Linked DNA regions of Homo sapiens. The protein of the gene in region 1 interacts with the protein of each later gene in a biochemical or structural test. Each region holds a gene or a part of one and is shown in the gene's direction. Other genes may lie near its edges.

The links.
Region 2: the proteins of AURKA (region 1) and PPP1CB form a complex in vitro, tested with the Homo sapiens proteins (one study listed by BioGRID).
Region 3: the proteins of AURKA (region 1) and NFXL1 form a complex in vitro, tested with the Homo sapiens proteins (one study listed by BioGRID).
Region 4: the proteins of AURKA (region 1) and SOX30 form a complex in vitro, tested with the Homo sapiens proteins (one study listed by BioGRID).

Annotation. Positions count from the first base shown.
Region 1 is NC_000020.11:56,381,640-56,386,907, reverse strand, and holds part of AURKA (aurora kinase A), read left to right. Parts: intron 1-374; coding exon 375-651; intron 652-2,583; coding exon 2,584-2,638; intron 2,639-3,731; coding exon 3,732-3,923; intron 3,924-5,268. UniProt on the Homo sapiens protein: Mitotic serine/threonine kinase that contributes to the regulation of cell cycle progression.
Region 2 is NC_000002.12:28,754,255-28,759,522, forward strand, and holds part of PPP1CB (serine/threonine-protein phosphatase PP1-beta catalytic subunit), read left to right. Parts: intron 1-5,268. UniProt on the Homo sapiens protein: Protein phosphatase that associates with over 200 regulatory proteins to form highly specific holoenzymes which dephosphorylate hundreds of biological targets.
Region 3 is NC_000004.12:47,885,891-47,891,158, reverse strand, and holds part of NFXL1 (NF-X1-type zinc finger protein NFXL1), read left to right. Parts: intron 1-455; coding exon 456-546; intron 547-5,159; coding exon 5,160-5,268.
Region 4 is NC_000005.10:157,637,746-157,643,013, reverse strand, and holds part of SOX30 (transcription factor SOX-30), read left to right. Parts: intron 1-4,291; coding exon 4,292-4,784; intron 4,785-5,268. UniProt on the Homo sapiens protein: Acts both as a transcriptional activator and a repressor. Binds to the DNA sequence 5'-ACAAT-3' and shows a preference for guanine residues surrounding this core motif. Binds to its own promoter and activates its own transcription.

The DNA of each region.
Region 1 (5,268 bases):
AAGAAATTTCAATGGAACTGAGATTTTGGCATAAAGTTTTTGTATCATAGCTTTTTGCCAAATAGCAATGTAGTGTCTATTTCCAAATTATTGAGAAATTTTAGAAAGTGTCTCCTTCATTAATGGATATTTGTTAATAAAGCATGATTTTTAGGGGTGAGGAATTGGAGGGGATAGAAGGTATCATTCAGGTATTCTTAGCCACATACTAACTATCCTCTGGAGGTACTGATTAAAATACCTTTTCACCTTCCATCTCTTATCAGTGACATTCATTATTTTGCTATACTAGAGAACAAACTTTGTGAAATTCTCAATATATTCATCTTTTGCTTTCATGAATGCCAGAAAGTTTATTTTCTCTTCCATTCTAGGCTACAGCTCCAGTTGGAGGTCCAAAACGTGTTCTCGTGACTCAGCAATTTCCTTGTCAGAATCCATTACCTGTAAATAGTGGCCAGGCTCAGCGGGTCTTGTGTCCTTCAAATTCTTCCCAGCGCATTCCTTTGCAAGCACAAAAGCTTGTCTCCAGTCACAAGCCGGTTCAGAATCAGAAGCAGAAGCAATTGCAGGCAACCAGTGTACCTCATCCTGTCTCCAGGCCACTGAATAACACCCAAAAGAGCAAGCAGCCCCTGCCATCGGCACCTGGTAAACTAGCTTTTGAGACTCATTGGATAGTCCTTCTTTGTCGTCGTTGCTAAAAAAGCCAGTGTATATACTTGCACTTATTGTTTGGAGCCTTAGCTTTTATATCTGTTGAGGATGGGGAGAAAATATGGTGTCTGGGTTGAAGTAACAGTGTCTGCCCATGGGCCAGACCTATGCTAAAAATACAGACCTGATTCTCACCCTCTTGGAAGAGTTGGGCACCCAGGGAGGACACAGCATAAATTGGTGTCCTTTTGATTGCTTGTTACTGAGTCTGGATGTAGGGTGCTTGCAGTAAGTGACTTGAAGGGACTGAGATCTAAAGTGTGGGGGAAATCCAGAGAAGTGGGTGAACTGAGGCAGGCTGCGGTGAGGTCACCATGGGCATTGCTGGCCATGTTAAGGAATGGGGCCTCATCTCTAGGGCATTTGGAAGCTACTGAAGCTTTTTTGAACTCAGAAGGGAACTCTGCCTTTTAGAAAGTTTACTGTGGAAGGCCAGGCGCAGTGGCTCACGCCTGTAATCCCAGCGCTTTGGGAGACCGAGGCAGGTGGATCACCTGAGGTCAGGAGTTGGAGACCAGTCTGACCAACATGGAGAAACCCTGTCTCTACTAAAAATACAAAATTAGCCAGGCGTGGTGGTGCACGCCTGTAATCCCAGCTACTCAGGAGGCTGAGGCAGGAGAATGGCTTGAACCCAGGAGGTGGAGGTTGTGGTGAGCCGAGATTGTGCCATTGCATTCTAGCCTGGGCAACAAGAGCAAAATTCTATCTCAAAAAAAAAAAAAAAATTTACTGTGGAAGTACTGAATAAATTGGAGTAGAACGCTGGATTTAGGAGTACCAGACAGGAAGGAGGTTGAGGTCAGAGATGGCAATAACCTGCTCTGTGTGGAGCAGAGTGGATGCAATTATTTACCAACTGTTGAGTGCTCATTCCCTGCAGGCTCTGAGATAAGTGCGTGCTTCATCCACGTCATCTCTTTCAATCTTCGTAACCACTTCATGAAGGTAGCCAGTTATTAACTCAGTTTTACAGAGGAGGAAGCTAAGACTCAGAAGCAGTTAACTTATCCAAAGACAAGCCAGGATGGAGAGGTGCACACAAATTTGAGAGCTCATTTACGATGCAGACTCATTAGAACTGGGCAATAAATTGTACCTGAAAGATGAATAAAGAGGAGTTAGGGATGGTGATTAGATTGATATTAATTGAGTGAGTGTCCTGGGGGTTGAGGGGTGCACATGTGACAGGGGCATCTGGAGGAAGAGTTTGGACCAGCATCCAGATATCTGAGCAGAGCATTGTGTGCTGTTCGAGTTTGCTATGTTGGAGACAGACCAGTGGAAATGTTTCATATGTCCTTGTGGCTGATGAAATAGTTACCCCAGTCCTCTGCTGCACAACTGTTCATTGTGCATTTTGCTGAATTGGTGGCTTTTATTTTTATATTTCCCCTTGGCAGCTAATATAAATGGAGGGTGGCTGGCTTATGTTTTGCTACATGTTGGTGATAATTCGTATGTAGGGTATGGACTGTTGGCTGGCCCACCTAGTAAGGGGAAAAAGGTGACGAGTTGGCAGCTCGTCATGCATGGGAAGATTGGTACTTCTGCCACAAAAGCTCTTCTTTGGAAACTGAGGCTTCAGAAGAGCCTGCATAGTCTGCCTTTAATTTATCAGAGAAGGGCCTGTCTATATATACGTCTGCTCATCTTTAGAAATTCTATAAAGGCTTCACATGATGGAAGTCAGGGTGTAGTAGTCCTTTTTTTCTATAAGGAAAACTTTAAAAAAAAAAAACAGATTTATCATTCTTGACATACCATTAATATTTTGGTGACCAATTCTTTGATTCACCTCTATTCACAGCTTAGCTTATCCTATATAGTTATTCTAAAAACAGGTTTTTAACTTATTCCATATAGAAAATAATCCTGAGGAGGAACTGGCATCAAAACAGAAAAATGAAGAATCAAAAAAGTAAGCTTTCTTATTTACAAAGTTCTGTACTGTTCTACTAGAATATATTATTTCGTTGCAAATTTCGTTGTGGGAACTCTGGGGAAAAAAATGAGGCCTTTATTTGCATTTAGAGGATATAAATGTTTCCAGATTTCCAATCTTAAAAAAAATGGAATTTTGTGTAATGAGGTATTTTACTAGGAACTCAAGTGCTTTAAAAAATGGCTTTCAAATTTAGAAAAAGCTTGTATGAATCTTTTATAGAAATGTGTGGAAGTTCCTCTCTGTCCTTAGAAATAACCACTACATATGGTTTATGCGTCTGTACTTTTTTATTGTACAAAAGTGCAAGTTTTTAAAAAATAGAATATGTTGCAGAACTATATACTCATATATGACTGAGGGTTTTGACAGTATTATAGTTTTAGTTCTTTATTGTAAAGGTTGGCTGTAATGTCTTCCCCAGGGCTTTTCTAAAAGCCTCCTCTCAGTCTCTGAACTATCTGGACTCTAGAATGTACCGGGAGGAGCGAGGAATGAACCCACAGACTCTTTTGCTTTTAGCGGTCTAACAGAGGCTAAGAGTCTAAATCCACTGGTTCTCATGCCCCAGCTAGCCTGTGGGCTCCATCCCGCTTCCATTAGTAACAGTGGCTCTGTCTCCACCACCAGAGTGGTTCTCCACCCAGAGAGAATTAGCACCTCTGGGACTGGAGGGAGCAGCTGGGGTTAGTTTGAAACATGCCCCCAGATGGTCTGGAAGCATTCCTCCCTCTCTGGTCACTTATCCTTTTTGTGGTCTTCAGCGTTGTCATGGCCCTGTTCCTCTGAGCATAGTACGGGCTTGGGACATTTCCCATAGAGTGCTTCAGGTCTAAAACCCGAGACTGCTCCTTGTCACTGACTCTCACACCTGACGGCAGCTAGGGACGTCAGGGTTTCATGTCGTGGCAGCTCTTTGATAGTGGTTATTGCCTTGGTTCTTGCTGAGGATGCATATTGAGTGAAGTTGGAATACGAAATTATTTGTAGAATGTGTCTGCTACTCATTGAAAATTTGTTAGAAAAGCTTTGTTTTCTTCACATTCTAAAGTGTTCAAATTCCTCCTAGGAGGCAGTGGGCTTTGGAAGACTTTGAAATTGGTCGCCCTCTGGGTAAAGGAAAGTTTGGTAATGTTTATTTGGCAAGAGAAAAGCAAAGCAAGTTTATTCTGGCTCTTAAAGTGTTATTTAAAGCTCAGCTGGAGAAAGCCGGAGTGGAGCATCAGCTCAGAAGAGAAGTAGAAATACAGTCCCACCTTCGGTGAGTTTTCAGGTTCATGTTCAAAAGAATGTTCACCAATGCTGCACCCCTCCCCCTCCTGTAATGTCAGCCTCCCACTGCCCAGGTCCCTTCACTCCCTCTTACGAGGCACTGCCTTCAAATGCATGGCCCCGTTCCTCACCTCCCCCTCCCCTATGAAAAAGATTAGATAAGCTTCTGTACTGCACTGGGTTATAAGCATTCTCCTGTGATTCTCCCATGCTCTGCATGTTAAAATAAAATTGTATTCCTTTTTTTTTTTTTAAGTATAAATTTATTTTTTAGAGGGCCTGCTTTTCATAGTACCACAAAAAATGATTAAATTTGTCATCTTTCAAAGAGCACTTAAGTGCTCTGATCCTGGAAAAATCACTTGAGGATTTAATGTTTTGTTAATAGAATAGTTTATATGGGCAAGTCTTTCTGGTGGACAGTGAAGGGGAATGGCACCCCTTATTCTGAGGTATGCAGGAATTGCGAGCAGCTACCTGCAGGTTGACTACGGCTGGTGGGTTTTTGTTTTTCCTTTTTTTCTTTCAGTGTTTTTCAAATTTGAATCAGATGCTAATACTTCAAGTCTGGCCACATCAGGCCTGGTGTGTCTCTGCCTGGCAACACCTGGCTGGGGCTGGGAGGGGCAGGCATCTCACATGGGCTGTGCTTCCCATTGCCTGCTTCCCGCTGGCCACAGTCTGCACCTGCCCAGTCTGCTCAGCACCCATCTACTGCCATTACTGATCACTGCTTTTATCTGTCACAGTGTCTGGGTGTCAAACTACTGTGGCAATGCCATGTCCTTTTTTTTTTTCCTTTTTTTTTTTGAGATGGAGTCTCGCTCTGTTGCCCAGACTGGAGTGCAGTGGCGCAATCTCAGCTCACTGCAACCTCTGCCTCCCAGGTTAAAGCGATTCTCCTGCCTCAGCCTCCTGAGTAGCTAGGATTGCAGGCATGCACCAACAAGCCTAGCTAATTTTTGTATTTTTAGTAGAGACGAGGTTTCACCATGTTGGCCAGGCTGGTCTTGAACTCCTGACCTCGCGATCCTCCCGCCTCGGCCTCCCAAAGTGCTGGGATTACAGGCGTGAGCCACTGTGCCCGGCCATGTCCTTTTTTTAATATGTAGATAATTAATATTCAGCTGAATTTTCCTCCTAAGAATAAAGGTGCCTAAAGGAAGGAAATAGTCTTAACTAAACCAGAGGTCCATTAATACTGTGAAGTGCTTTTAAAATGATATGTGGGTGTATGTATTTTTCTTGGAGTGGGTTTATAGTTTCAGATTCTAAAGTGGGGTTTGGAGTGTGGTTTCATGTGAAACACCACTGGTTTTACATGAAGAGTTTGT
Region 2 (5,268 bases), on another chromosome or scaffold:
CACTGGGGGAAAAATAAGTGATTCCATTTGTTTTTGTGAATTCAAATTAAATATTTGGTTTGTACAATCTGTTTTCCTTTTTTGGGGGGGCGGGGGGGGGGCGGGTAAGAATTGTAGTCCAGATACGTTTCTCTCTTAATTTAGCAAGCGTTAACAAGTTGACCTCCTCCTTGCCAGGCACCAGCAATCCTAAGATAAGACACAGTCTCTTCACTCAAGGAGCTCCCAGTCTAAACAAGTGTCTTTCAGGCTTTTTCAGCCTCCTCTCTGTCCTATGTTCAGCACACATTCTATCAGTACTTCTTCATCCTACAGAAGCATATTTAGTTTGACAGTGCCCCCAAGGGATTCTTAAATATTCTAGGTTTTTCAGCTCCTTCCCAGATCCAGACCTGTTGAAAGACTTGTCCAGAGCAGACTTGAATTTTCTAGTAAATAATTATTTTTAATCTTCAAAGAAAATTTTGTCCACCTGGATTTTCAGTGATATTAGATGCTAGTTAGTGATATTTTGTAAAGCTGCCTAGCAAGAATAACTATGGTTAGTGTTTTTAGTGTCAAATGAACGTGTAAGTAAAAATTTGGCAAGAATTTCTCTGCATTAGGGGAAAACATTCAGCAGGACCTGATCTCATTTTAAAATGCTGATTGTAGCCCCACAACATATTCCTGATTGTTTTTTCTTTTTTACTGTATTAAATCGCAGATCAGCTATACACACTTCTGGTGACTACATTTTATGAGTTGCTTTTTGTTTTTCTTTTTTAGGTGGGCGTATTATTGATAAGTTTTTTTTGTTTTTTGTTTTTTTGAGACGGAGTTTTGCGCTTGTCACCCAGGCTGGAGTGCGGTGGGGTGATGTTGGCTCACTGCAACCTCTGCCCCTGCAGGTCCAAGCGATTATTCTGCCTCAGCTTCCCAAGTAGCTGGGACTACAGCATGCCACCACGCCCCGGCTAATTTTGTATTTTTAGTAGTTTCACCATGTTGGCCTGGCTGGTCTCGAACTTTCCATCCTCAAGTGATCCACCCGCCTCGGCCTCCCAAAGTGCTGGGATTACAGGCATGTGCCACCGCGCCTGACCTTGATATGATATTTTCAAAGAGTCCTTTAGGTCATTTTAATACAAACATGCCATTTAATGTAAAACAGAAATATTGATTTTATTATTTGGACGGTGCATATTCTTTCGGTATGTTTTCTTGGATTAACTTTTGCTTAGAACTAAAAACCAAAGACTTCTACTTTATCCCCTGTAGTGACCCTGTTGGCCACATTCTTGTGGCTTACCATAGTGTTTTGATCATTTAAATTGAAGCTAGTTTGTATGAGTATTCTGGAAAATCCGGTAAAAGCTTCTTACTTAGATGAGTGGTTCTCAAAGAGGGGTGGGAAATGGGAGTATAGCAGAATCATCTGGGGAACTTCATTCAAACTATAAGTGCTAAGTTTATTTTGGAGGAAGTGAAGTGGAATGAGTAGAATCTAATGCATTTGGGAGGAGGTTAGTATGGAAAACTGCTGCTGGGTGAATAAGAGTGCCAGCTCTGTTCCCAACCACAGTCTTGATCCAGGTATTTAAAAACTGGGATGTGCCAGTTGATATAGTATGTCTATTATGTGTCATATATGTGATAATATGAAACTGTTTAGAATTTGCTTTTTCCTGATTATGAAAGGGCAGCATTCTTTCAAGAAGTCCCCTGTAATTCCACAATCCAGAGATAACCGTTGTTGAAATTTTGATATATTTTTGTTTAAAGATACTTAACATACTTTGTAAAATTCACATGCTTTACATCATTAGAATATTCTTTACATAGCTTTATGAGTTAATTTTTCATGTAGTATTACATCATGAACATTTTCCCTTGTCATTGAAATGTCTTCAAAAATACCGAAAAGCGATTTGCTGTGTGATAGAAAAGTTTTTCTTAAAGTATTTTTTAACATATTACCACGAAGCTGAACTTGACTATTACAATATGAGTTGTAGAATATTAGCACTGTGTAAAGTTCCATAGCAAAATGTGATTGTGTTACATTTTTGGCCCACTTACAGTTTTATGAAAATCGTGGGATGTGTTTGTACCTGTTTTGTTTTTTAAATTCATTTTTCATTTAACTTTGACCTGTCAGATGTCTGAATTTGTGACACTGCTTGTGATCTCTTAGTGCGTATCTCCCTTTTCTTTCTTGTGAAACAGGTATAGTACTCTTAAGATTTAGTTAGGCTGACAGACTACACTTTTAACTTTTCCTATTCAAGACAGGCTGGAATGCAGTGGCTTGATCATGGCTCACTGCAGCCTCGACTTCCTGGTCTCAATCGATCCTTCTGCCTCAACCTCCCTAGTGGATGGGACCACAGGCACATGACACCTTGGCTGGCTAATTTTTTTTATTTTGGTAGAGACGGGGTCTCCCTATGTTGGTTGCCCAGTCTGGTCTTGAACCCTTGTGCTCAAGCAATCCTCCAGCCTTGGCTTCCCAAAGTGTTGGGATTACAGGTGCGAGGTGCTGCGCCCAGCCTGTAGTGTCCTTTTGAAGGTTAAAAAAAATGAATGGATTTGAAAAATGAAATCGATTAATGAAAGCATATTAAAGCCCTCCATTTTAAAATGACAGCTTTATCCAGATATAATTCACATACCATACAGTTTGCCTATTTAGAGGATATGATTTTTAGTATACTATAGAGTTGTGCAGCCATCACCACAGTGAACTGTATAATATTTTCAAACACATATACCCCCCAAAAAACCCTGTTCCCGGTAGCAGACACCCCATTTCTCTCCATTCCCTCCCGGCCCCCACTAATCTACTTTTTTTTGTCTCTTAGATTTGCCTATTCTGGACGTTTCATGCAAGTGAAATCATACAATATGTTGTCTTTTGTGACTGGTTTCTTTTAATGTTTTTAACATTCATCTTTGTTGTAGTATGTATCAGTACTTTATTCCTTTTATGGCTGAATAATATTCCATTGTATGTATACACCACATTTTTAATTCATTCATCAGTTGATGGACATTTTGTTTTCTTTCGGCTATTGTGAATACTTGTAGTGCTGCTATCAACATTTGTGTAGAAGTTTTTTTTTGTGGGCATATACTTTCAATTCCGTTGGGTATATAGCTGGGAGTGAGATTTCTAGGTCATATGGTAGCCCTATGTTTAACTTTTTGATGAGCTGCCAGGTTGTTTAAGGCCTCTTTACTGATTAAATTGTTTAATTCTGACCCAGCAACCTAAAGGTTAGGTGGTTGGAAAGAAGTGTCAGTTGTTGCCGACAACCTCCACTTCTGTAGGGAAGGTGTTTTGTGTGGATGTGCAGCTAGACTTGTTAGAAAAAAGAGCATGTTGGGGAGTGGGGGAGATCACCCGAGGAATATTTTATCTCCTTGATTCTTCTGGATGAGATACTAGAGGAGACATAAGGTCGTGGCATATTTTTTAACTGATTCAGAGATTAGGTGTTTGTTTTCTCTGAATTAAGTTCAGCAAGTAAGGGAAACTGACAGTTTGAAGAAGTAGCCCAGAGGTGTTTTTATTTTGCTATCTGAATGCAGACCTGGAGCTTTTCTGGTAAATATCTAAATCCAAGATGAAGATTCGTTGGGATTTAATACATTATTTAAATTGAGTCTAGAGACAAAGCCACATTAAGAGTCAGGATTAGTGGGGAAGATAGTTGCATCTAGTAGGTCTTTTTCTTCCTTATTCTCCACGTTTATTACTTTTAAAAGAGTATACATTCCAATGCCATGCATTTTTAATTTTTTTTAATTAATTTTTTTTTTTTTTGGAGGCAGGGTCTGGCTCTGTCACCCGGTTGGAGTGCAGTGGCATGAACATGGCTCACCTGCAGCCTCAACCTTCTGGGCTCAAGTGATCCTTCTACCTCAGCCTCACAAGTAGCTGGGACCACAGGCATGCACCACTAATTAAAAAAAATTGGTAGACACAGAATCTTACTTTGTTGCCCAGGCCAGTCTCAGAGTTCTGGGATTACAGGCACCCAGCCCCATTTTCAAACATTTCTAACAGGTAAAGTAATACAGGTATGAAGGAATGTTAAGATTCTTAGAAATACTGACTTAAATTCTGTTATGTATTTCTGAAAGGTTATTCTCGAATGTTGGTGGCATATAGGGAGGCAAGGGGAAGAAATAGTTTGTAAATGTCAGTAGGTTTAGCAGTGGTGTGGTAGATGGGGATTCCCAGTGGAGTCTTCTAGGATTTGTGATTGGATACAGATTGATACCCTTAGGCAGCAGCCACTGCTTCTAGCAGCTTTAAATAGCCATTTCAAGGCTTATTCAAGTATAAATAACCAGTAGCCAGTTTTTTCCTGATTTGATAGAGGAAGTCAGTCCTTGGTCTAGATGGGTACTTGTCATACAGTAGGAAAAAGGGCGGGGGCAGTTGTCCTTTATTCTGCCTCTGCACTATTCACATGTGGAGCACAGTGATTTGTGAGAGTATGTATAACCTTCGTGAACATCACTGGCCTCAGAACCCTCCCTTGCCAAATTTACCTGCATCTGTGCAAAGACAAGTGGAGATATTGATGATATGTGCATATCCCAGAGGGAATAGCGTTTGCTTTTTGATGCATGCCCACCCTTGCATAATTGGGAGGTTTTAACATAGCATATTTCACCATAAAGGAATTTTATTCTAAGAATGTTAATCAGAATATCCCTAAGTAACAGAAGTTCCCATCTGGTCAGTTGCAAGGTGACCAAAACACTTTCTTGGTTTGAGTATAGTCATATGTTCTGTCAAATGATGTTTTGGTCAACAGTGGACTTCATGTAAGGTAGTTAGTGGTCCTGTAAGATTAGAATGGAACTGAGAAATTCCTGTCACTTAGTGACATCATAGGCATAATGTCATAGTGCAATGCATTACTCTTGTTTGTGGTAGTGCTGGTGTAAACCTATTGCACTGCCAGTTGTGTAAAAGTACAACAGGCCACGCGTGGTGGCTCATGCCTGTAGTCCCAGCACTTTGGGAGGCCAAGGCAGGTGGACCACTTGAGGTCAGGAGTTCGAGACCAGCCTGGCCAACATGGTGAAACCCCATCTCTACTAAAAATACAAAAATTAGCTGGGCTTGGTGGCATGCATATGCCTGTAATCCCAGTTACTCAGGAGGCTGAGGCAGGAGAATCACTTGAACCTGGGAGGTGGAGGTTGCAGTGAGCAAAGATTGCACCACTGCTCTCCAGCCTGGGCGAAAGAGTGAGACTGCATCTCCAA
Region 3 (5,268 bases), on another chromosome or scaffold:
ACCTGAGACAGAGCCAGACTCTGTCTCAAGAAAAAAAAAAAAAAGAAAAAAAGAAAAAGAAAATAAATAACTGCCAAATGAATCTATACGTTGAATTTGATTTTAATTAAATTTTTTTTAAAAACCAGACTAATTGTTTTCCTGAATTGACATTCCTTTGGTTAATGTTGTTAGTCTCTGCATAGATAAAGGAATGAAATTATCTGATGGAAATGTTTTGAATCATAGAATAATTAACTGAAAGTCAGGAAAATTTAGCTTGATTTGTTAAATTAGGTCATCATAAGTTCTTAGTGAAGTATGTTTACTTACCAGAAGAATGTTGATATTCTTGAATACTTCTTTTAGTGAAAAGTGTATCTTTTGCTTTCCATAAGTTCTGTAACTAGTAATGACATGCCTATTATTCATGGGTTTTTGAATTACCTGTTCTTTATATATTGCTTTCTCTTCAGTGTTGCCCTGGAAACTGTCCACCTTGTGATCAAAACTGTGGACGGACTTTAGGATGTAGAAACCATAAGTGTCCATCTGTCTGTCACAGAGGTAAACTTTAATAATAGCTATGATTTTATGTTTGTAGTGATGTAGTGGTTTTTTTTTTCATTGTCAATATTCAATATAATGTATTGAAATAGCGTTTTATAGTCATTATCTCACTTGACTCTCTTAACCTGGAGAAGAAGGTAAGGCAGTTTGCCAGTGTCTCTATTTTATAGGCAAAGAGGTTGAAGCTTAAGAGGGTTCAGTAACTTACTCAGGGAAATGTCTAGTACATTTGAACCCAGGATTTCTGTATATAAAAGTATTGTCCTTTCTATAACACCATATTGTTTTCCCACTTCCTGACTTTCCCCACATAATTTTTTAATCAATGAAGGTGTTCATAGCATTTTGAACACCTTATTTATTCTGAATTTTATATACTTATTTGTAGTTAAATCTAGTAAAGGATTAGATATGTCCGAAGCTGGTGATTTTTAAACATTTTGATGTCATGACCCCTTTACAATCCTTTGGTCCCCAAAGGGCTTTTGTTAATGTGAGTTTTATTCATTGACATTTATTGTATTTGAAATTAAAATAAAATGTAATAATATTTATTATTTTTTAAAAATAGCAGTAATAAACCCATTATATCTTAATACAAATAATGTTTTATGAAAAATAACTATTTTCTGAAAAAAGTAGAAAATTTTACATTTTTACAAATGTCTTTAATGTCTAGCTTAACAGAAAATAGCCGGATTCACATATATGCTTCTGTATTCAGTCTGCTATGGACATCACTTTTCACTAGCTTCTGGAAAACTATGCATGTGAGACCTTGCAGACCTCCTGAAAGGGTCTCAAGAACCACTAGGGTTCCTGGACTATACTTTGAGAATTATGTTATAAGTTATTACTAGACATTAAAAACTGAGTTAACTTCACTCATTTGGATTATGTTGATATGAAATGGAATCTACTGAGATATGGTATACAGTATTGGAAAGATCGTGGACTTAGAGTAAGAAATCCTGGATTTAAGCCTAGACTCTGCCATTTAGTAGTTTAATACCTAGAACAAACTACTGAACTGTTTCTCAGTTGATCTCCCTATCCTTTCAGAAATCCTGCAGCATATAGGGATATGTGGAACAGGCCGGGAGACTATTGGCCCAAGGTTAATAGAACTAGTCGCAGAGTCAGGATGTGAACCCAGTGTTTATGTTATTTCCATTATACTACATTCCTTCCCCATTAGGAAAAGTGTCAGATTCTATTTACCCTGTAGACATTTCCTGTAGGTGTTCTTTGATTTGTCAGTGAAGTTTAGAAATAGTTTTTCAGGTATGCTCTCACCAACACTAGAAAGATTTTATTTTCTTTTATAGTCATTACATCACTGACCCATTGAGTTTTTGCAGATTTTTGCAAACTACATCTCTGTGATATAACTGGTTTAACAGTAGTAAATCTAATATTATGTAATTTACCACATTAAAAGACCAAAGGAGGAATGAGATCATCTTGATAAATGTCTAACATCTATATAAGATAAAAATTTAATTGGAAATAGACATATCCTTAACCTGATAAAGAGTATCTGCAAAAAGTTTAGAGCAAATATCATACTTACTGGAGAAGTGTTGGAAGCATTTCCCTGTCTCATATTTTTGTGAAGCAAAGCCCATAAATATTTCAGTATTTGTCTCTAAAAGATGGATTCTTAACCTAAATGTAGTTAACATATTTCTTCATATCAGCAAACATCTGGTTTTCAAATTTCTTGTTGTCTCATAAGTAACTTCATTTTTTACATCAGTTTATAGACTCAAAAACCTAATAAAATTGACATGTTGTAATTGGTTTTGTCTCTAAAGTCTTTTAATTTATAATTTCCATCCTCTATCTCCTTTTTTCCCCTTATGACTTATTTGTTGAAGAAACTAGGTTGCTTTATTTAGTTTCTCAGAGTCTGAGTTTTGCAGATTGCATCTCTGTGGTATTATTTAACATGTTCCTCTGTCCTCTATATTTTTGATAACCTGTTAATTGGATCTAGAGGTTTGATCAGATTCAGGTTTTGATATTTTTTGGTAGAGTGGTGTTTTTTTGTTTGTTTTGTTTTTATAGATTTCTATTAATCCTTAGAAAAGCTTATTAGTCACAACAAAATTTTCCTTGATGTAAAGTATGTGGAAGATGCTGTTGTGCAACTGTCAATATTTGTTTCATCTACAGTTATAAAAGAATGTGGAATCATAATTTCATACCATTTTTCCATCATTCTAGAATCCTTCATAATCAGAATTATACAGTAATTTATAGGGGGAATATACTAACTGCATGTTTGTGTTGTGGGTATGTGAAAATTTGATTTATAGTTTTGTTTTGTTCTTTGAGACGGAGTCTCTCTCTGTCACCAGGCTGGAGTGCAGTGGCGCAATCCCGGCTCACTGCAACCTCTGACTCCCCATTTCAGGTGATTCTCCTGCCTCAGCCTCCCGAGCAGCTGGCATCACAGGCATATGCCACCATGTCCAGCTAATTTTTGTATTTTTAGTAGAGCCGGGGTTTCACCATGTTGGCTAGGATGGTCTCGATCTCCTGACCTCGTGATCTGCCTGCTTCGGCCTCCCAAAGTGCTGGGATTACAGGCATGAGCCACAGCGCCCAGCCGATTTATAGTTTTTTTTTTTAAATTCAGGATCATCTGTGTTTATAGTTTTAGAACTACCCGAATCATGCCTATTTTGGCTATTAACTGGTATTGGTCAGTATAGTTATAGTCTCCCTATGCTATTTCTTCATTTTGAAAGTATTATGGAAGCTCTTTTAATTATAATAAATTCTGTTGGTCAGTAGGGAGACTGTTTAGAGAAATTGTCCCTTATTTTCAAGATGTAATTTAAATGTGATACTGTTGTTTAGAATAACAAAAAGGTTACGTTTGATAACAAAAAGGTTCCTCTGCTGAAGATGAATGAAAAATTGTCATTGTTAAGTATAGAAACAGATATAATATGCCGAATGAGAACCGACTTAAATATCACTATCAACTTTAAAAATACAACTTGTAGTCATTCTTTAGGTAAAATAAAAATAAAACTTGATATGTGGGTTAGGATAACTTGACTTGCATTAACATCAAGAATATATGTGTCAAAACACATTTGGTGTTTTGTATAATAAATGTTATGTTTGACCCTACGATGTTTTACCTCTAATCTTCTCTTTTTCTGTGTTCATTATTTGAATTATAATTCTTAATTTGTGTTTGTTTTAGGGAACTATTTTGAACTTCTAGAGGCACTTAAGCCAGGATATTGTCCATCTTTAATCTTTTTTTTATCAGGTTAACTCCCGGTCCATGTTTTGCTTGGTCCTGACACCTAGGCAACAGTCTCTTTAAGATATTCATTTCTTCATTGAAAACTCTTCTTCCTTTATTATTTCATTTCTGATAGAGTTCCTTACTGGGAAAACTAGAGTGGAAGAAAGCCCTTAAGATGATGACAGAACCTCTTGGAGCGAACTTTATAGCCTGCTTTAAAGATTTCTTTGATTTTGTTTTTTTATATTTTTGCCAACCCATAACAAAAGAGCGTAAAAAGCTGAAACCAAAATAACATTTTTTTTTATGTTTAGAAGAGAAATATTTGGGATTATATCCTAAAATGGTGGCTTAGTACTTAGTCTTTCACAAAGCACAATTAATGGAAAATTGACTGTGCTTGCTACTAACCAATATCAGGTCATGAGAAAGAAGTTATTGGGAATTCATCTAAAAATTGTGTACTTGGATAGATGTATGAAAGTAGGCCAACGATATTATTGTTAATGTTAAATTTTCCAAAGACTTAAATCCATTTTTGCTTGTTTTAGTTTTGAATGAGTAATGTGTTAAATTTGTTATTTAGAACAGAAGTTTTAGCACATTTTAGAGAAATGTCTAAAACTTTATGAGGTACCAGTGTACAGAGAAAAAAGTGTTATAAATCAGAGGCTGGGTGCAGTGGCTCACGCCTGTACACCCAGCATTTGGGAAGCTGAGGTGGGAAGATTGCTTGAGTCCAGGAGTTTGAGACCAGCCTGGATGACATAGTGAGACCCCTCCATCTCTATAAATAATCAAAAATTAGCTGGGCATGGTGGTGTGTGTCTGTAGTCCCAGCTACTTGGAAGGCTGACGTGGGAGGATTGCTTGAGCCCAGAAAGTTGAGGCTGCACTGAGCTGTGATCATGCAACAGCACTCAGCTTGAGCAACAGGTTGAGACCCTGTTACAAAAAAAAAAAGAGAAAAGTATTACAAATAAAAAGTATACAGCTTGTTGAATTTTTACAAACTGAACATAGCCAGGTAACCAAAACTTACATCATTAAACAGAACATGACCAAAATTTTCAACACCTTCCTTGCATCCTTCATAGCTATCACTCTGATTTTGAACAGTACATTTTTTCTTGTTTACTTTATATAAATGGAATCATGCACTATGTACTCCTTGTGTCTGGCTCAATGTTTTGTGGTAAGATTCATTCATGTTGTTGTAGTTTCTTCATTCTTGTTGTAGAGTATCCCATTGTGTGAATATACTAAATTTATGTATTTTACCATTAATAGGCATTTGGGTAGTTAAGGAAACTTTTTAATTGTCAGACTTTTTTTTCAGGCAGTTGCTATCCCTGCCCAGAAACCGTAGATGTGAAGTGTAATTGTGGCAATACAAAGGTGACAGTGCCCTGTGGCCGAGAACGTACCACAAGACCACCCAAGTGCAA
Region 4 (5,268 bases), on another chromosome or scaffold:
TTGAACTTGTCATTATACTGTAGTTGATCTAATATTTTTAACCTATTTACTTTGAAAATTAGGGTTCAGAAATCTTAAGGTCTTCTTTAGGAGAAAGGAATTTATTGAGTCTCTCTGTTCTCTGTCAGTTGCTGTTTATACCGTAATGACTAAATAATTCCACCGATTCTCTCCTTTTTGTAAAAATATTTGGAGTCAATTAGTATTGACTTTGAGGTCTCTCAGGTGTGGCTCCTTCAATTTTCCTTTGGACTGCCTAGTTTTTTTGCATTTGCCTCACCGCAGTTGGGCTCATTTGTACATTTGGACAAGCTTTTGAAGGTTTTGTTGTTGTTGTTGTTGTTATTTTTGTTATTTTTTATTTATTTATTTTTTTGCCAGTTAGCCATAGTAACTGTGACTTTGAGGCACATTTCTTTCTTTTGTGTTTTTAGCATTGTCATGTAAAATAATCTCCATTTTTCTATGAACTTTTTATTTTAATCTCTATCAGCCTTTTTCCCTAGCCAATATCAATATTCCAAAAATTGAATAACCCCAGCGTAGATTTTTTTGACTTTCTCTTTAGCCAGGATCATAAATTTAAATATGTTGTGATTACTACCGCATAATATTTCACACACTGAATTCATGGATTTTCTAGTAATATTTCTCCATTATTTGGCTCTCAATCAAGCTTCTTCTTTTTTTTTTTTTTTGAGAGGGAATCTTACTCTGTCTCCCAGGCTGGAGTGCAGTGGCGTGATCTTGGTTCCCTGCAACCTCCACCTCCCAGGTTCAAGCGATTCTCCTGCCTCAGCCTCCTGAATAGCTGGGACTACAGGCAAGCGCCACCACGCCTGGCTAATTTTTGTATTTTTAGTAGAGACGGGGTTTCGCAACATTGGCCAGGCTGGTCTTGAACTCCTGGACTCAAGTAATCTGCCCGTCTCAGCCTCCCGAAGTGCAGGGATTACAGGCATGAGCCACTGCACCCGGCCCTCAAGCTGATTTCATTTTACTGTGTATTCTACCAAACCTTTTTGTTCTAATCGATCACTTGTCCTGTACTAGATCTTCCCAGTACACTTTTATCACATTAAGATATTCAGTAAATATATTCGAAATCTGGCAGTTTAATCTGGTATTCTCCCCTGTAACAGTGAGTTTTATCTCAGATATCTTCTGAGTAAATTCCAGTGGCACATTTGTTTGCCTGCTTACCTGCCGCCTTCACTACTAAGGTTTCTTAAATCCTATTATGGGGCAAACTCTGCTAGGAACAACATATAAAGTTTTTTTGTAGTCTCTGCTGTCAAAGAGTTCGTTAGGTAGTCGTAGCAAGTATAGATATAAATATAACTACTTTTACTATTTCTTTGATAGAATCTACTTTCTTGTCTGGTATTATTATTATTTTTTGAGATAGAGTCTTGCTCTGTCACCCAGGTTGGAGTGCAGTGGCATGATCTCAGCTCACTGCAACCTCCACCTACCAGGTTTAAGCAATTCTCCTGCCTCAGCCTCCAGAGTAGCTGGGATTACAGGTGCATGCCACCAAGCCCGGCTAATTTTTGTATTTTTAGTAGAGATGGGGTTTTACCATGTTGGCCAGGCTGGTTTTGAACCTCTGACCTCAGTCGATCTACCTGCCTCGGCCTCCCAAAGTGCTGGGATTACAGGCATAAGCCACCACGCCCAGCACTTGTCTGGTATTATTTTTATGTCTGGTGCATTATTTACTCTGTCACTCACATTTAGTACTATCTCCCAAGCTCCTCTTCTCTTACTAGTTCTTTTTTTTTTTCTGTAGAGATGGGATCTTGCTAGGTTGCCCAGTCTAGTCTCAAACTCCTGGACTCAAGTGATTCTCCCATCTTGGCCTTCCAAAGTGTTGGGATTACAAATGTGAGCCATGGCACCCACCCTGTTTCTAGTTTCTGAAAGTGCTTATGTTACTGGCGTAAAGTTCTTGGCTCTCAGTGTAATAGAAATTAACAAGAGGCCAGGCAAACTTTTCCTAGACAGGGGTTGTTAGGGCTTATGCCTGGAAAGATTGGGTATTAAGAGAGACAGCACAGGAGAAAGGGTTCTCTGGCTGGCTCTCCAAGGGAGTGCATTATGGTGTCTTCAGGAGGGTGATATGCATAATGCATGAGGTAGCTGAGTGTCATTACATATGCGAGGTGGAGTGCAGGGTGTGCAGACAAGTAAGGAATCATGCTAACTCATATGTTGATCATGATCAGAAAATCTCCCTGGGCGGAGATTTTAGTATTTCAATCCTAGAGATTTTAATATTACAATCCTAGGGGTTAGGATCGTCATTCTAATTCTAGATCGTCATTCTAGAATTTGCCAGGAGGCCATTCTCACATGCAGCCCTTGTGCACATGCAGGCGATAGAGTTAATTCCCTTGAGTAAGATTTGTGGTGGAATGCTGCTTATCTTAGTTTTTTCAGACAGCTTGCAAGGTCTGGTCAATGGGTATGGTGTCAGTGGGGGTGGTGCTGCAAGGTCTGGTGGTCAGTGCGCATGTATGGAAAAATACGTGAGTGAAGGTGAGATGATCCCCGCCACCCCACTACCCTGTCTCGCTTATAGCATGGTAGTGTGGAATTCTCTTCAGATCTTTGATTACATGTCTTTGATGCCAGTTATGCCAGCATCCTCCTTTTATATGAGTATTCCTATTCATTTAAAGGCTTTGGAACTTTTATAAAGCTGTATCCATTCATACTTTTCTTAACTATTTTTTATTAACCAGGTTCTGGCTAGATACTGGGATACGAATAGAAATTGAGAGTTCCTGCTCTCAATCTCCCAGTTTGGTGATCATGGTTGGGGTGGCAGACATGCAAATAATCACAAAGATTTACACTATTTCATGATAGGTGATAGGTTTACAAGGTTTGGAGGGAACGTGGACAAGGGAAATTAACCTATGCTTGATAAATCAGGAAGGGCCTGAGTAGGGCCTGTGCCTCACAGATAGTGGGGCTAGTCCAGATAACCTCATCAGGTGAAAATCAGGGCAGCATCATTACATCCTGTTTCTCTACTTCACTGGGTCAGAGCCCATCTTCAGACAGGTGGCTATGTCCCTTAATTCCCTACTTCCTGCTTTAAGAGGGGCATTATCTGCTTTATCTGGAGAAAAGAAAGGAGAGGGAAGTCACCTGAATGAGGCTGGGAAAAGATCCACATTTCTTTCAGTCTATGACAGAGACATGTCCAACCGCAGAATTTCTTGGACTGCATCTTCTTTATTAATGGATTCGAAACTGTATTGCAATACGTTAGATCATGACTCTCTTGCTGTGGCATCCATCTGTATTTCTTCAGGAAAGTTGAATTAAATTTAGACCAGGTGTGTCATTTGGGTCACTTAGCAGCTCAATCAGTAGTCCTGTCTTCTTCAGAACAGAAAGCTAAAACACATTAATTGTTTCACCTACCTTTAAAAATTTTGCCATATCTTTCATGCTCTGCTGCAATAGTATTCCTTTTGTATCTGTCACCAGTGGTTGACATGTGGCAAGTCCTGTTCTCACTTGGAAATTTCCTTTCGTATTCATATTGAATACAATAGAGTGAAGTAATTTTGTTGTTTAAGTTTTTTTCAACGAAAAAAATTAAATGTCATTTATAATTTAGTTTAATATAGAGAAGTTTATAAAAGAAAAGAAAAATGACCCATACTGCTACTCTGAAACCCCTAGTAATATTAAAAATAAGATTAATATATTTAGGTAAACAGAACATTCAGATAGTACCAGTAGGTATAAAACGAAAGTCTGGCTTTTCCTCCTGCCCCACTGCCCTGTCCCCTCTCTTAGATCATGGCTCCTTAAAGGTAACTAGTGTCAATAGCTTCATATTATTATTATTTTTAAATGTATATATGCATACCAGCATTTATGTGTTTTCAGTCTTTTAATATATCTATCAATAATTTTATTCATTTGTTTATTCATCTAAAAAATATTTGTTGAGGGCCTCTTCTGCCCCAGACAGAATGTTTCACCCTGGGGATACAGCAGCAAACGAAACAGAAAACGTTGCTCTTCTCATGGCACTTAGAGTCTAGTTGAGAGAGAGAGACAAAAAATGTAAATGAACAAGAAAACAAGATAACTTCAGTTTGTTCAAAATGCTGCAAATGAAATAGAGTGGTTTGATATGATGATGCAGTTAGGTAAGGTGATTGATGAAGGCCTCTGCTTATACAATTTATTAAACTTTACTGAAAGAAGAAAAACATGGAATGACTCAGTTAATTCTTGATTTATGCTATTTTTATTTCTAAAGGTGAAACCTCACCTGCTATCCAGCTGCCCACACCTGCAGTCCAGAGCCCAAGCCCTGTCACACTTTTCCAGCCCAGCGTCTCCAGTGCTGCTCAGGTGGCTGTCCAGGATCCAAGTCTACCTGTCTATCCAGCACTCCCACCCCAACGCTTTACTGGGCCTTCCCAAACAGACACTCATCAGCTGCATTCTGAAGCCACTCACACTGTGAAGCAACCCACTCCTGTCTCTCTAGAGAGCGCCAACAGGATTTCAAGTAGTGCAAGTACTGCCCATGCCAGATTTGCAACTTCGACCATCCAACCTCCTAGGGAGTATTCCAGCGTTTCCCCTTGTCCCAGAAGTGCTCCAATCCCCCAGGCTTCTCCCATTCCACACCCACATGTCTACCAGCCCCCTCCCCTTGGCCATCCAGCCACACTGTTCGGGACACCACCAAGATTCTCTTTTCATCACCCTTACTTCCTACCCGGACCTCACTACTTCCCATCAAGGTAAATTAACATTTTTTTTCCTTTTACCTAAACATTCAGCTAATGAGTTTTTACCTGTGACAACATTTTTTTGTTTATTTGTTTTTAAATACTGAAAAGCAGACTTCTTCAATTCTGCTGACTAGGAGCCAAGCAGTTAACATAAATAGATGGAGAGGGCCAGGTGAGGACTGGGGTAGCTAGGGAGAGTGCAGCTCTAACTCAGCTCCAGCTGACTCTTGTTACATAAGAATATAGGCTTCAGGCAGTGGCTCATGCCTGTAATTCCAGCACTTTGGGAGGCCAAGGTGGGTGGGTAACTCGAGGTCAGGAGTTTGAGACCAGCCTGGTCAACATGGTAAAACTCTGTCTCTACTAAAAATACAAAAATTAGCCAGGCGTGGTGGCACGTGCCTGTGATCCCAGCTACTCAGGAGGCTGAAGCAGGGGAATCACTTGAACCTGGGAGGCGGAGGTTGCAGTGAGCTGAGATCACACCAACTTC